Regions from separate parts of the Homo sapiens genome. Here region 1 is linked to region 2. Evidence: fine-mapped expression QTL. Tissue or cell type: sun-exposed skin. Region 2 holds a variant in brackets; the other region holds the start of a gene. All regions are shown on one strand. Distances are from middle to middle.

The links. PIP is the estimated chance that this variant, and not a neighbour inherited with it, causes the effect.
Region 1: CYSLTR2 starts here. The variant in region 2 is fine-mapped to the expression of CYSLTR2 in sun-exposed skin (GTEx, PIP 0.98).

The regions. Positions count from the first base shown.
Region 1 is chr13:48,652,442-48,655,112 of GRCh38, forward strand. CYSLTR2 (cysteinyl leukotriene receptor 2) reads left to right here and starts at 1,488. Exons shown (of 5, transcript NM_001308476.3): 1 at 1,488-1,576.
Region 2 is chr13:48,579,693-48,582,545 of GRCh38, forward strand. The region is part of intron 1 of LINC01077 (long intergenic non-protein coding RNA 1077); the gene reads right to left. It overlaps LINC00462 (long intergenic non-protein coding RNA 462), which reads right to left and starts at 1,209. Exons shown (of 3, transcript NR_051983.1): 1 at 1,149-1,209. It overlaps LOC105370202 (a long non-coding RNA gene), which reads left to right and starts at 1,499. Exons shown (of 3, transcript XR_941958.4): 1 at 1,499-1,574; 2 at 2,054-2,300. The variant T/C (reference allele first, on the strand shown) is at 1,395.

The sequences.
Region 1 (2,671 bases), 73 kb after region 2:
ATTTTGTTCTTTTTAAATCAGTAAATAGTATTCAATTGTGAATATATACCACATTTTTCATCCATCTTTCTGTTGATGAACATTTCGGGTGATCCATATTTTGGCTATTGTGAATAGTGCTACAGTAAACATGAGAGTGCAGAGATCTCAACAAGATTCAGTAACCTTACTACTGAGTATATATCCAAAGTATTTTATTCATTTTGATGCTATTATAAATGGAATAGTTTCCTTAGTTTCCATTTTTGGATTGTTTATTGTTAGTGTATATAAATGCAACTGATTTTTGTGTATTGATTTCCTGTCCTGCAACTTTGCTCAATTTGCTTGCTTATTAGTTCTATTGGGGTTTTGTGTGTGTGTGTGTGCATGGTATCTTCAGGTTTTTCTACATATAAGATTTTATCATTTGCAAACAGACAAAATTTTACTTATTTATTTCCAATTTGGATCCCTTTTACTTATTTTTCTTGCTTAATGTTACTGCAGCTTTCTATGCAGGAAACGAGGATTTGAACAGTGATGGAGAGATGAGTAATGGTTCGATTTGGAACATATTTTATGGGCAGAACAAATGGAACTTGTTGGCTCAGAAGTGGGTGGTGGAAGAAAGAGGGAAGTTAAAAGTGACTTCTAGGTTTATGGATGGATGAACTGGCTAAATTATTGTGGTGCCATTTGCTTAGACAGGGTAGATGGGGGGATGCAGGACTAAGAGAGGAAGAGAAAAGCTCCACCTGGGCCACATTAAATTTGGCCATGATTGTGGATCAGATAGGTAAAAGCAAGAGAAGGAGGGAAGAAGTCAGAACACAGACCTCTGGGGAAAGCTCACACGTAGAAAAGGGGTGGAAGAAGAGGCATCAGAAAGAGAGGCAAAGAAGAGCAATCTGAGGGGTAGAAAAAGAACCAGGAAAGTCAGAGAAAAAAGGGAAAAGTTTCAGGAAAGTGGCAATGGTCAACTATGCAAACAAGAGGGGAAGGAAGGTGAGGACTGAGAAAGGATTTTTTATGTAAGCAACAAGGAGGTTTTTGGTGACCTCTGACAGAACATTTTCAGCAGACTGGATAAGGTCTCTGCCTGAGTGCAAGTGAGCTGAAAATGCAAGTGAGTGAGGGAAGTGCTTTAAAAAAGTCTAAAGTGCTATGTGTGTAAGGCAATGTTGCTATTTCTGTTGCCATGGAAACAGAAACCATTTAGGAGAACTAAAAGCCACTTAAAATTCCTGACTCTAACCCATCATATCCGCTTGATCTCTTGAGAAAGATAATGACAAAAAACCAGTCATTAGAGGGGCAGGGCAATTTTAGGTTTCTTCTTTTTAGACATAGCCCCTAACTGGAAATTTTCACCCTTCTTGAGAAGGGAGCTTGCACTAACATCTACAATGGCTTCTAAAAAGCACAGATGACCTGCTACACTTCCTGACTTGCTTGCTATTGGTTGGCACTGTTCATAAATATAATTTGCTCTTTCACTTTTCTTTGAAATGAGCAACCTGAATTACTCGGAGGAGAAAGGCAGGAGAGATAGAGGCAGCAGAAGCCAGGGCAGCTGAAAGACAGAGACCTTCAGGTGGGCATTTTAATCTTTGTTTTGTTAATTCAGTGTTGAGCATCATGACTTGATGATCACATAATAGTCAGAGGAGTAATTTTTTAAAAGTAAATTTGTTTTGTTCTACTATAAATGTTATTTTCCTATCATGTACATGGTAGTTTAAAAAATACTGTGGAAGTATAAAAATGTTGAAAGAAGCCAAATTCTCCACCAAAATAGCCTCTATTGATATTTTGGGGATCGTCCCTTTGTGTGTGTGTGTGTGTGTGTGTGTGTGTGTGTGTGTGTGTGTGTGTGTGTGTGAGTGTGTGTGTGTGTGTGTGTATGCACATATAACTTTAGTTTTCATAGTTGCGTCCCTACACTATGGACAAGTTTGTATTCATTTCCTCCATATCAGTCTATGGTTTTTCCATGTTGCTGTGAATTCTTTGTAATCATAAATTAAAGCTGCTGCATATTATTGCATTGAGGAACTTTACTATACTTCCTCCATTTTTGGCTGTTATCCTCTTTTTCATAGTTTGGGTCCTTCTATTATATAAGATATATTTTTTCCATTCAGTGTCTTGTTTTAGGGGTAGAAGAAGTTAAATCTGAGCACATATATTTCAATGGTTTTGCTCAGAGGCACAATGAGAATGAAAGAGTATGTGAGATCATGAGCATATAATCTGTTCCTTACCCCACTGGGACCCTAATCAGTGTTTCTCAACCCTGGCTGCACATCTGGCCAGAATCACCCGACTCTGAGGAGATTAGAAAATTACCCCTAGAATAACTGAAGCTTAACTTTTGGAGATCAGTGAGTCATCTGCAGTATTTTATCTTGTTTTCCAGAAACTTCTCAGGTGGTTCTAATGGGTGGTCAGCATAAAAACAGATGACCTAGGTCATTCAAAATATTTTTCTGTCTCTGAAATATACCTGAGAGTAATATGTATTAGGAGAAAGGGAGGTATAATTTAAGGCAAGCCAACCAAATCTCCCTTTCAACACTACATAAATAATGCAAATTATAAAATAATTTGTGGGAAACATAAGACTTCTAGAAATTTCTATCATCTACTCAGCCACATAAACTCTTGAGATAAGAATCTACTTGTGTTT
Region 2 (2,853 bases):
GGTGGTGGCTGCTCTTTCTAAGGACTATTTGAACTTACAGCAATCTGATCAAGGCAGGTTTTAGAGTTTCAGGAATGCTGGTGAGCCATGTCTTGCATGTTTAACCCAAAGCTTCCCTGGAGTTGGAGACTGCACTACTTTTCATCCATCATACACTTTTTGGGCACTCGCTTGTTGGTGCTGGGCACTGTGTTAGACTCCAGAAAGACAGATAATTGTTTAGTAAAGGAAAAAAAAATGCTGTTTCTGCCCTGGAAAAATGTGCCTGACACAGAGGCCTTTTGTATTTCTGTTCTGGTCAAATAGCAACTCTCTCCTCGAGGCCATAAATGCTGAAGCTTAGACCTAGTATTTGATAGCACAACAGGGTAACTATAGTCAATAATAATTTAATTGTACATTTAAAAATAACTAAAAGAGTATAGTTGGATGGTTTGTAACACAAAGGATAAATGCTTGAGGGGATGGATACCCTACTTTCCATGATGTGATTATTATGCATTGCATGCCTGTACCCAAATATCTCATGTATCCCACAAATATATAGACCTACTATGTGCCCACAAAAATTAAAAATTAAGAATTAAAAAAAAAATGCCACAAGACAGGAGAGGTAAGTTAGCCTAGAAAGAGCTTGTTAAAAAAAAAAAAAAAATCCTTTCTTTACAGTCGAATAATATTTTAGCAATGCTGCCCTCTGCAGAGCAAAACTAGGATCGCAACTCTAGGTGGTTAAACGAACTTCCCAACACTGGTTAATTTGAAGAGAACTGGAAGATTCAATGGTCTTCCAGAGTTTTCTCACATACCCCCCTAAAATAATTGTGAATAATCATGTGCCTCCTTGCGTGTTTTTAAGTTGACATCTAAATTTGCCTTATCACCTTAATAGTTGCAAAGGATGTTCTTTCCCACACATTTTCTGAGCTTTAAATAGTTGCAGATTGAGCGTATCCAGTTTAGTTTATGAAAAACACCATCTGTATCACCTGGTGGGCAAAGCCAGCCCTCATTGTCAGACCAATCAGCTAACTTTGAATTGCTTTCTGACAGAAAAATAGTTTACTCGACTGTATTAATCACGCTGCTGATAAAGACTTATCCGAGACTGGGTAATTCTTAAAAAAAAGGAGGTTTAATGGACTCACAGTTCCATGTGGCTGGAGACGCCTCATAATCATGGTGGAAGATGAAGGAAGAGCAATGGGACGTCTTACATGGCAGCAGGCAAGAGAGAAAGAGAGCCAAACGAAAGGGGAAACCCCTATAAAAGCATCAAATGTTTGATGAAAAGACTTTGAAATTCATTGTTGAAAAGACTTATTCTGTTCAACATTGTTGAAAAGTTGTTTGAAAAGACTTATTCATTACCATGAGAACAGTATGTGGGAAAC[T/C]GCCCCCATGACTCAATGATTTCCCACTGGCACCCTCCCACAACACGTGGGAATTATGGAAGCTGCAATTCAAGATGAGATTTGGGTGGAGACACAGCCAAACCATATCATTGACTGACTTAAATTCAACAGAACTGTGCTTTGGAGGACATCGTTGCGCTGCTGACTTCTAACACTGAGGTAGGTGACTAGATAGAGCTGGCGCAGGTGACCCAGGCATTGCTCCTTTAGGGGTGCCTTCTGAGAAAGCAAAAGGAGTTTTACTTTCATGGGACTCTCCTGTCTTAGCTCTAAATTTTCTTATTGTCCCATTGTTTGGTGCAAGTTCTTTTTTTTTTTTTGAGATGGAGTTTCGCTTTTGTTGCCCAGGCTGGAGTGCAATGACATGATGTTGGCTCACCGCAACCTCCGCCTCCCAGGTTCAAGTGATTCTCCTGCCTCAGCCTCCCGAGTAGCTGGGATTACGGGTATGTGCCACCATGCCTGGCTAATTTTGTGTTTTTAGTAGAGACTGGGTTTCTCCGTGTTGGTCAGGCTGGTCTCGAACTCCCGACCTCAGGTGATCTGCCCACCTTGGCCTCCCAAAGTGCTGGGATTACCAGGACGGTGTATTATAAGTTTCAGGATGGTAAAAGGTGTATGTCTTCTCTTGTAAACAGAGAGAAGGGAGATTGTGAAAGGTACAAGAGGCAGGGGAGCAGCCCACTGAGCTACCCCAGGAATTTCCCTGACAATCAGTTTTAAGGAGGACATGCAGAAGTTGAAGATGTGGAACACACATCCCATCTAAGGGGTGACATCCTTCAGTTTGTGGACAGCTGGTCTAATTCACTGGAGGAGGAACACAGCTCCCCTGGGGCCATGCTCTGGCCACAGAACAGTGTGCAAGAGGTCATTTATGTTCAGGTAGCTTTTCTTATCTCTCCACTCTTGCTCTGGTCTTTAACAGCTTTCCTTCAGGGGCACGTAGAGGGCATGGCTGTGATATGCCTGTGTCATGCTTTTTAAAGAGTAGTCCTCCTGGAAAATAACTCATCCTTCTCTAGGTCTGGAAGATGACTTTGGCCTCCAGGAGCTGTCTAGCAAAAGCTGAATGCCAGTTTACAGCAGCTGTCTGTTCATACAGACAGGTCAAGAGGTTTCCTGCCTGGTGGGTGGCTGGACAAAGTGCCCAGGGTGGACGAAGATAGTTACACCATAGGGCCTGAGTGAGCGGGAGACACTAAGATGATTCACTGTCTGCTGAGGAGCACCTTGAAAGTCAGACCAGGATATTTCAGGTCCTACACCACCTGACCACTGCCCGTTGATAGAACCTGCTTCCCCCTTTGAACCATATCTGACTTGCCTTGACTTTCACCTTTGTAAAAATGGGAATCTTTTTAAAGCTATAATACTATTTCCTGATTACTGCTTTCTCTTCACTCCTCTAACATTCTGTACCTTTTTTTTTTTTTTT